Linked DNA regions of Homo sapiens. The protein of the gene in region 1 binds, or shares a complex with, the protein of each later gene. Each region holds a gene or a part of one and is shown on either strand. Other genes may lie near its edges. The genes, in order: CCNA2, CDC6 and RBL1. A codon is read from its position in the direction of its gene.

The links.
Region 2: the proteins of CCNA2 (region 1) and CDC6 are in contact, whole or in part, in a crystal structure (PDB 2CCH), measured with the Homo sapiens proteins. Residues at the interface, in NP_001228.2 of Homo sapiens: Met210, Ile213, Leu214, Trp217, Glu220, Val221, Glu224, Tyr225, Arg250, Leu253, Gln254, Glu277, Tyr280, Ile281, Thr282, Asp283, Thr285; in NP_001245.1 of Homo sapiens: His89 (codon at 298), Thr90 (codon at 301), Leu91 (codon at 304), Lys92 (codon at 307), Gly93 (codon at 310), Arg94 (codon at 313), Arg95 (codon at 316), Leu96 (codon at 319), Val97 (codon at 322), Phe98 (codon at 325), Asp99 (codon at 328), Asn100 (codon at 331).
Region 3: the proteins of CCNA2 (region 1) and RBL1 are in contact, whole or in part, in a crystal structure (PDB 1H28), measured with the Homo sapiens proteins. Residues at the interface, in NP_001228.2 of Homo sapiens: Met210, Ile213, Leu214, Asp216, Trp217, Glu220, Glu224, Arg250, Gly251, Lys252, Leu253, Gln254, Tyr280, Ile281, Thr282, Asp283, Thr285, Tyr286; in NP_002886.2 of Homo sapiens: Gly654, Ser655, Ala656, Lys657, Arg658, Arg659, Leu660, Phe661, Gly662, Glu663.

Annotation. Positions count from the first base shown.
Region 1 is NC_000004.12:121,815,861-121,818,484, forward strand, and holds the end of CCNA2 (cyclin-A2), read right to left. Parts: intron 2,318-2,624; coding exon 2,184-2,317; intron 1,827-2,183; coding exon 1,778-1,826; 3' UTR 997-1,777; coding exon of another isoform or gene 912-996; 3' UTR 588-911; downstream 1-587. Other genes in the region: EXOSC9 (exosome complex component RRP45), read left to right, coding at 284-334, 509-587, 912-996. UniProt on the Homo sapiens protein: Cyclin which controls both the G1/S and the G2/M transition phases of the cell cycle. Functions through the formation of specific serine/threonine protein kinase holoenzyme complexes with the cyclin-dependent protein kinases CDK1 or CDK2.
Region 2 is NC_000017.11:40,290,847-40,294,500, forward strand, and holds part of CDC6 (cell division control protein 6 homolog), read left to right. Parts: intron 1-211; coding exon 212-493; intron 494-622; coding exon 623-822; intron 823-2,609; coding exon 2,610-2,785; intron 2,786-3,103; coding exon 3,104-3,210; intron 3,211-3,517; coding exon 3,518-3,654. UniProt on the Homo sapiens protein: Involved in the initiation of DNA replication. Also participates in checkpoint controls that ensure DNA replication is completed before mitosis is initiated.
Region 3 is NC_000020.11:37,064,862-37,068,515, reverse strand, and holds part of RBL1 (retinoblastoma-like protein 1), read left to right. Parts: intron 1-329; coding exon 330-530; intron 531-1,218; coding exon 1,219-1,283; intron 1,284-1,394; coding exon 1,395-1,523; intron 1,524-1,631; coding exon 1,632-1,792; intron 1,793-3,042; coding exon 3,043-3,092; intron 3,093-3,654. UniProt on the Homo sapiens protein: Key regulator of entry into cell division. Directly involved in heterochromatin formation by maintaining overall chromatin structure and, in particular, that of constitutive heterochromatin by stabilizing histone methylation.

The DNA.
Region 1 (2,624 bases):
CCATTCAAGCACCTGTAGGAAATAAGAGTTTAAAGAAACAAATGTTACAGATGAGTTCTAGAGTGCTCTAAGAAGCTGATTTAAAGAAAAGATTAAGCCTCCACCTAGAGTTTTATTTTTATTTTTTGGGATGGAGTCTTGCTCTGTCACCCAGACTGGAGTGCAGTGGCACTGCAACCTCCACCTCCATGGGTTCAAGCGATTCTCATGCCTCAGCCTCGAGTAGCTGGGCCTACAAGCACATGCCACCACGCCTGGCTAATTTTTCTATTATTTTTAATAGAGCTGGGGTTTCACCATGTTGGCCAGACTGGACTCGAGTTCCTGACCTCAGGTAATCCACCTGCCTCAGCCTACCAAAATGTGGGTATTAAAAGTGTGAGCCACCACGCCCAGCCCCAGAAATAAGAGTTTAGAACGTCTGATAGAAATAAATTCATGTAGAAATAAATTTTGCAAGAGATTGCTTAACTTTTTTTTTTTTTTTTAAATTAATAAAAAAACAAAGATGCTCCCATAATACTCTCAGATAGTGAAGAAGAAGAAATGATCATTTTGGAACCAGACAAGAATCCAAAGAAAATAAGGTAACAAATTTCTGGTTTATTTCAAATGTATACATATACTCAACACTTATAGAGGTTTGCTCTCTGGTTTTACTCTCATCTTGCCACATGACTATAAACAAAAAGACATCCCTTTTTCATTAGAGATCCATCTGTTCTGTGATTTTTTTACCTTGTGATTTATAAAAATTAGGACCTAAATCTATAATATAAACTTCTTGGATGCCAGTCTTACTCATAGCTGACACATTTTAGATCCTACTGGAAAACTAAGAAATGCCTCTTATTTCAATAATCCAAAACTTAACATACTCTTAGTAAATTCTTACTTTGCTTTATTCACAGAACACAGACCACCAGTGCAAAACAAGAAAAAGCACCAAGTAAAAAGCCAGTGAAAAGAAGAAAAAAGAAGAGAGCTGCCAATTAAAGCTAACAGTTGTATATCTGTATATATAACTATTAAAAGGGATATTTATTCCATTCTGAGAACCCTGGGTATTTTTTATTCACAAATCCATTATAAAATCTAGCAGGATTTTAAAAATAGTTTTTTGTTTTTAATGTGCTTTAAAATAATAAACCTTCTGGAGCATTTCTCGTCTGTTAATTTGCATATAAGCTTCCCACCCTCTTCCACTCCCAACCTCTGTTGAGTTTACCTCGCAAAACCTAAACAAACAGGTTTTACAAAGAGCGAAAAAGTCTGGGGAATCTCTACTGTATCTATCTCTGAATACTGTATTCAGATATGCTTAGATTAGATTATGCCCAAGTCAGCAAATTGATCCAGTTGCTTAGGAAAATGAATGTCAGAATTTGAGGGTCTGTTTTCCTAAACCTACTTTAATTTTAGAGGAAGGCTTTTCACTTCCCATTATATAGTAAACCAAGTAAACTTCTTTACTAAGCAAAATCCTGAAGAAGTTAAATTTGACTTGCAAAGTTTTCCAAATCAATTTATTATCCTGACAGCTGGCATCATTAATACTTTAACAAAACCACTTAAAATTAGCCAAATATCTAAGACAGATACATATACAAAAGATATACAAATTAAAACCATTTAAAAAGTAATAGATACCATAATTTGTACTTGGCCACAACTTCTGTATTCAGAAATGATTGTAAAATTAAAACCTAAGTTAAAAACTGTACACCATATACTTTGAGTGATTTACATCTTAGAAAACAAAGGCAGTCTTTCATTGTTACAGATTTAGTGTCTCTGGTGGGTTGAGGAGAGAAACACCATGATACCTGTAAGTAGGGAAAAAAAAAGCATTTTTAGTAAACACTCACTGGGTAAAGGAGATCATGGAATAATGTTTGTACTCATGTATTGGGAACTAAAAAATGCTATTTCTGTCTGACCGACTTGATGGTTTTAGAAACACTGTCTGGTCCCTGAAACACACATGCATGCCCCCTTCCTTCTCTCTTCTCCCCCAGACCCAGGGCAGAAAGCATGAACTACAACCTTCTTCAAACACATAACCAATTTAGAGAACAGCTTCTCAAGGAGGCTATGGCAGATTCATGAATAAGGTTAAAATGTCAAAGATCTCTGAACCATAATCTAGAAAAGTAAGCTTCAATATCCAAGTTAATTCTTACTTTGAATTTTTGTACTTTTCTCTTATTGACTGTTGTGCATGCTGTGGTGCTTTGAGGTAGGTCTGGTGAAGGTCCATGAGACAAGGCTTAAGACTTTCCAGGGTATATCCAGTCTTTCGTATTAATGATTCAGGCTACAGAGAAGGGAATAGAGAACCCCTGAGTTTTGCTTTTAGTAACACACCAAACACAGTAAATAGTTGGCATTAAGCTTATGTTAAATTCCAGTACTAATCTTTAACTTTTCCAACTACTAGTTTTCTCAGGCCATTATTCCATCCCTCGATCCATTTTCTACTACTTTCCCTGCCAGCAACAGGTCAGATGCTTTTAAAAAAGCTCACCTTTCAATCCAAGTTACAACTAAGCTTACTACCTAACAAACACTGTTCAACAGGTAACATGCCTTAAACAGTATATAATCATCCCTCAGTGTACATG
Region 2 (3,654 bases), on another chromosome or scaffold:
GGTAACTAGAACGGTGGATGAAGGGACTACTGTAGTAAGATCAGTGGTGCCATCTGGTGACCAATATTTGCTGCTAAGTGAGAAGGCATTTTATTTTGGTGGTTCTGACTAAGGTAGAAATTCACCTCTTTCTGGAAGAGGCAGAGGTCTTGCACATCCTTTTACTATCCAATGCTATGAGTGACTACATTTTTATTTTATTGTGTTTCAGGCGATGACAACCTATGCAACACTCCCCATTTACCTCCTTGTTCTCCACCAAAGCAAGGCAAGAAAGAGAATGGTCCCCCTCACTCACATACACTTAAGGGACGAAGATTGGTATTTGACAATCAGCTGACAATTAAGTCTCCTAGCAAAAGAGAACTAGCCAAAGTTCACCAAAACAAAATACTTTCTTCAGTTAGAAAAAGTCAAGAGATCACAACAAATTCTGAGCAGAGATGTCCACTGAAGAAAGAATCTGCATGTGTGAGACTATTCAAGCAAGAAGGTTTGTTCTTACATGGCAACTGTTAGTGCAGCCATTGTAACCAAGGCTGATGACTCCAAATGAAACCACCCACTGGGTCTTCTCATTCACCTTCTGTTGTGTCTAATTGACCTTTTATGTCTGGCACAGGCACTTGCTACCAGCAAGCAAAGCTGGTCCTGAACACAGCTGTCCCAGATCGGCTGCCTGCCAGGGAAAGGGAGATGGATGTCATCAGGAATTTCTTGAGGGAACACATCTGTGGGAAAAAAGCTGGAAGCCTTTACCTTTCTGGTGCTCCTGGAACTGGAAAAACTGCCTGCTTAAGCCGGATTCTGCAAGACCTCAAGGTACATTGAGAGTCTGAATTATGATACTCTTGGTAAAATGATACTTGGGTGTTTTTGTTTGTTTGTTTGTTTTGTTTTGTTTTGTTTTGTTTTTTGAGACGGAGTCTCGCTCTGTCGCCTAGGCTGTAGTGCAGTGGCGCGATCTCGGCTCACTGCAAGCTCTGCCTCCCAGGTTCACGCCATTCTCCTGCCTCAGCCTCCCGAGTAGCTGGGACTACAGGCGCCCGCCACCATGCCCAGCTAATGTTTTTTGTATTTTTAGTAGAGACGGGGTGTCACTGTGTTAGCCAGGATGGTCTCGATCTCCTCACCTCATGGTCCGCCCTTGTTGGCCTCCCAAAGTGTTGGGATTACAGGTGTGAGCCACCGCACCTGGCCTGTTTTGTTTTTGAAACAGGGTCTCTGTTGTCCAGGCTGGAGTGCAGTGTTGTGATCTCAGCTCACTGCAGCCTTGACCTCTTGGGCTCAGGTGATCCTCCCACCTCGGCCTCCTGGATAGCTGGGAATACTGGCACTCACCACTACACCCAGCTAATTTTTTGTAGAGACAGGGTTTCACCATGTTGCCCAGACTTGTCCTGAACTCCTGAGCTCAAGTAATCTGCCTGCTTCAGCCTCCCAAAGTGCTGGGATTACAGGTGTAAGCCACTGTGCCTGGCTGGCACTTAGTTAAGAAAGAGGGCTAGGCACGGTGGCTCACACCTGTAATCCCAGCACTTTGGGAGGCTGAGGTGGGTGGATCACCTAAGGTCAGGAGTTTGAGACCACCCTGGTCAACATGGTGAAACCCTGTCTCTACTAATAATACAAAAAAAAATTAGCCGGGCATGGTGGCAGGTGCCTATAATCCCAGCTACTCGGGAGGCTGAGGCAGGAGGATCACTTGAACTCGGGAAGCAGAGGTTGCAGTGAGCTGAGATCGCGCTACTGTACTCCAGCCTGGGTGACAGAGTGAGACTCTGTCTCAAAAGAAAAAGAAGGCTGGGCATGGTGGCTCACGCCTATAATCCCAGCACTTTGGGAGGCCGAGGCGGGCGGATCATGAGGTTAGGAGATTGAGACCATCCTGACTAACACAGTGAAACCCCGTCTCTACTAAAAATACAAAAAAAATTAGCCAGGCGTGGTGGCGAGTGCCTGTAGTTCCAGCTACTCGGGAGGCTGAGGCAGGAGAATGGCGTGAACCCACAGGTGGAGCTTGCAGTGAGCCGAGATCGCGCCACTGCACTCCAGCATGGGCGACAGAGCAAGACTCCGTCTCAAAAAAAAAAAGAGTTAAGAAAGAGTAGGCCTGGTGCGGTGGCTCACACCTGTAATTCCAACACTTTGGGAGGCTGAGGCAGGTGGATCACCTGAGGTCAGGAGTTCAAGACCAGCCTGGCCAATGTGGCGAAACCCCATCTCTACTAAAAATATAAAAATTAGCTGGGTGTGGTGGTGCATCCTTGTAATCCCAGCTACTTGGGAGGCTGAGGCAGGAGAATCACTTCAACCCGGGAGGCAGAGGTTGCAATGAGTTGAGATTGTGGCATTGCATTTCAGCCTGGGCAACAGAGTGAGACTCCGTCTCAAAGAAAAAAAAAAGAAAGAAAGAAAAGAAAGAGTAGAAGTTTAGAAGATTGAGGGTTTCTTCAAAATAAAACATTTGTAATTTCATTGTTTAAATCTTTCCAAATGAAAGTAGAGCTTCCTTACGTGCTGTTAGCTCTTCAAAGACATTTTAGGCTCTATCAGATCTTTATTTTCTGAGGCCAAAATAACTCCCATATTTGCATTTTTTTTTCCAGAAGGAACTGAAAGGCTTTAAAACTATCATGCTGAATTGCATGTCCTTGAGGACTGCCCAGGCTGTATTCCCAGCTATTGCTCAGGAGATTTGTCAGGAAGAGGTATCCAGGCCAGCTGGGAAGGACATGATGAGGAAATTGGAAAAACATATGACTGCAGAGAAGGGCCCCATGATGTAAGTATTGTTCTGCTTCATGTTGCTCTGTGAAAATCTGCAAGGTCTGTTGCCCATAAAAAGTACATTTTGTATATTTTCTCTCTGAAGGATAGTTACATAAACTTAAAGGGAAAGAAGAGAAGGAAGATACACCTAATTTTAAATTGGATTACTTATAGATGATGTGGGGTATCCTTGTAGCAGTAACTAGAGATAGGTTAGATTATGATCTTTAAACTGGTCTCAGCTTTAGGAAAGTGACCTGAAGTCAGCCTATATCAAACATTAGAGGGTTAAGAAGGTGAATATGGATACTAACTGTTTCTCTTTTTATAGTGTGTTGGTATTGGACGAGATGGATCAACTGGACAGCAAAGGCCAGGATGTATTGTACACGCTATTTGAATGGCCATGGCTAAGCAATTCTCACTTGGTGCTGATTGGTTAGTGCTCAATTGTTAATGTTACATGGTGGTTCTAAAGTATTTTTTAAGAATATATATTCAGCTTATTTATCAGCTATTTTATCTTAAACCAGCTTTCTGCCGTGTCAAAATAAGAAAGTTAAATGACTATGTACATCTTACCTAATAGATACATCTTATCTATTGGGATGGGGTAGGAGACAAGTGGCAAGCAACAATTAGAATGCTAGATTCTATAACTGGAGATTTATTTAGCTTTCAGAAGATTTAGTTTTCCCTTTAGGATAATTTGACCAATGATCAATGTTGTTGATCTCCTCCTTAGGTATTGCTAATACCCTGGATCTCACAGATAGAATTCTACCTAGGCTTCAAGCTAGAGAAAAATGTAAGCCACAGCTGTTGAACTTCCCACCTTATACCAGAAATCAGATAGTCACTATTTTGCAAGATCGACTTAAT
Region 3 (3,654 bases), on another chromosome or scaffold:
TGAGGGATGGTGTTTGTTCTTTGTTCATGTAAGACAGTGTCTTGCTTTGTCACCCGGGCTGGAGTACATGATTGAGGCTAACTGCAGTCTCGACATCCTGGGCTCAAGCAATTCTCCCACCTCAGCCTCCCAAGTACCTGGGGCTACAGGCACATGCCACCACACCCAGCTAATTTTTTAAATTTTTGTAGAGATGGGGTCTTAACTATGTTGCCTGGGAAATCTGGCTTTTTAATAAAGAGTCTTAGTCATGAATAGAATATTTCCTTTCAATCCATTATTTAAATGAATTTTAAAGGTGCCTTTTTTCTCCTCCTTTTTTTTTTTAGTTTAATACAATTTTTTAGTAAAATGAAGAAATGGATGGACATGTCAAATCTACCACAAGAATTTCGTGAACGTATAGAAAGGCTAGAGAGAAATTTTGAGGTGTCTACTGTAATATTCAAAAAATATGAGCCAATTTTTTTAGATATATTTCAAAATCCATATGAAGAACCACCAAAGTTACCACGAAGCCGGAAGCAGAGGTGAGCCCTTAATCCTTATATAATTGACATAAAGATTATGATACAAACTAAGAGAATATACTTTTTTGAAAGTCTGTTTTTTATGAAAAGTATTCCTGCAAAGAACTTAATTATTTTCTTTTTAAATCCATGTACAATTATCCATATTTGGAAATTCAGGATAATACTTTTACTTATTTTTCTTTCTGTTGTTGTTTTTTTTTTTTTTTTTTTTTTTTTGAGGAGTCTCATTCTGTTGCCCAGGCTGGAGTGCAGTGTCCTGATCTCGGCTCACTGCAACCTCTGTCTCCCAGGTTCAAGCAATTCTCCTACCTTAGCCTCCTGAGTAGCTGGGATCACAGGTGTGCACCACCCCGTCTGGCTCATTTTTTGTATTTTTAGTAGAGACCAGGTCTCACCGTGTTGGCCAAGGTGGTCTCGAACTCCTAACCTCAGGTGATCTACCCACCTCGGCCTCCCAGAGTGCTGGGATTACAGGCATGAGCCACCACACCCAGCCCTATGTTCTGATTATTTTATGCAGGTTGGAAAGGCTTACTTAAGTCCATTTCATAAATAATAGATTACTTTTCTTCATGAATGGAATTTCATGTGTAATTTGATCTATTTGATATTTACATTTACTATTTCAGTTTACATGATATTTAGCGAGCTAGTCAGACAAAAAGTAATTTTTTTCCCTTTTTAGGAGGATTCCTTGCAGTGTTAAGGATCTGTTTAATTTCTGTTGGACACTTTTTGTTTATACTAAGGGTAAGATGACACTTTCAGTGGTCTTACATTTCTACTCTGGGAACTTGGTGCTATTTGACATGAGAGGTTTCTGGTTTTTGTGTCTTTTTTTTTTTTTTTTCCCTTATAAAGGTAATTTTCGGATGATTGGGGATGACTTAGTAAACTCTTATCATTTACTTCTATGCTGCTTGGATCTGATTTTTGCCAATGCGATTATGTGCCCAAATAGACAAGACTTGCTAAATCCATCATTTAAAGGTAAGACCTTTTATTTATTTTTGAAAACTGATTATCAGTTTTTGGAAAAAGATTTTTAAAAGTTGACTATTTTTTTTTCCCTCTGCCCTTCCTACACTGTCAAACTAGGTTTACCATCTGATTTTCATACTGCTGACTTTACGGCTTCTGAAGAGCCACCCTGCATCATTGCTGTACTGTGTGAACTGCATGATGGACTTCTCGTAGAAGCAAAAGGAATAAAGGAGCACTACTTTAAGCCATATATTTCAAAACTCTTTGACAGGAAGGTACTGTACTTATAATTAGATGACTGAGATGTTTACAGATCACCAGTAATGTGAAAAGAAAAAAATGTTTTAAGCAAGTTCTCAGCATTATAGAACTTAGGGTCAGGATTCCCAGGCTTTAGCCTCTACTGTGATTCAGAATTTCCTTATGATCTTGTGTGATGTGAGAAACAGAGCTGTTGAAAAATGTGACCAACTATATGTACTGTTGGGTAAATGTACTGTCAGAGGCAACCGTAGGAGGTACTGATAAAGAATTGTAAAGAATAGAACATCAGAGTAGGGCTGACAAATAATTAGGAAAAACAGGAGGTCAGAATAAGCTGACTAATTTACTGCCACAATTTGAATAACTGCTGACTGTTGACTAAAAGTAGGATGATGTATAACAACCACAGTTTTAATTCCATGTAAATCGAGCAGAAAATCCATGATAGTTTTGTAGCCACTTGTAGGCTATCTGTGTGCATTCTGGACATTGTCTCCTTGGTAATTAACTTAGCTATTTCTACATTTATGAATTGGCTTGTTCCTTTGGGTTTCAATTTCTTATTTCCCCAACGTCGAGCCATTAAATGTAGTTAAGCCTCAAGATTTCTCTTTGGTAAAAGGAGGGGTTTGGATTATGGATCCCACTTTTCAAATATTATGAGATTTTTCTTTAAGCATAAATTCTTCCCTTACTGGTTTCTTCTTCTTTTATACAAATTTTTGTATTCAGTCTTGTGTTCCTCAGATATCTATATTATGGCCCATTGTCTGTATGCTAAACATCTCTAGCAAAGTAAACTTTTTTTAAAGGATCCCAGGGACTGGGCGCGGTGGCTCACGCCTGTAATCCCAACACTTTGGGAGGCCAAGGCAGGTGGATTGCTTGAGCCCAAGAGTTCCAGACGAACCTGAGCAACATGGCAAAACCTTGTCTCTACAAACAATACAAAAATTAGTTGGGCATGGTGGTGCACAACTGTAGTCCCAGCTACTTGGCACGCTGAGGCTGCAGTGAGCCATGATTGTACCACTGCACTGCAGCCCTGGTGACAGAACAAAACCCTGTCTCAAAAAAAAAAAAAAGTTAAAAAAAAAAGTTATTTGCATGCTAAATAGTTTATCCTAGTCTGAAAGAAATATTTAATAATTCTGTTTTGTGTGTGTGTTATAACAATATGGAAATTTAGATAAATTTCACGTTTGTGTGTGTATTAATATGCTTAATTATATGGTGTCCCAAAATAATTTTTTGTTCACAGATATTAAAAGGAGAATGCCTCCTGGACCTTTCAAGTTTTACTGATAATAGGTAAATATCTAGTACTAATGGTGCCTGGCTTATCACAAGCTGTCATATTTGTTGATTTGTTGAAATTTGTTAAGCATAACAGTATATCAAAGTAAGACCTCCAAATTCAAGTTCTCTCTGCTTTAGTGGCATTGAATGTTTATTATCACTAAGACTTGTTGGCTTTAAATACATTTATTTTAAGAAATCAAGGCCAGGCACGGTGGCCCACACCTGTAAACCCATCACTTTGGAAGGCCAAGGCAGGCAGATTGCTTGAGCTCAGAAGGTTGGAGACCAGCCTGGGCAACATGGTGAAACCCTGTCTCTACAAAAAATACAAAAATCAGCCAGACGTAGTGGTGTGAGCCTGTGGTCCCAGCTACTTGGGAGGTTGAGGTTGGAGGATCGTTTGAATCTGGGAGGTTGTGGTTGCAGTGAGCCGTGATTGCACCACTGCACTTCAGTCTAGGTGACAGAGTGAGACCCTATTTCCAAAAAAAAAAAAAAAAAGAAAGAGGCCGGGCATGGTGGCTCACGCCTGTAATCCCAACACTTTGGGAGGCCAAGGCGGGCCGATCAC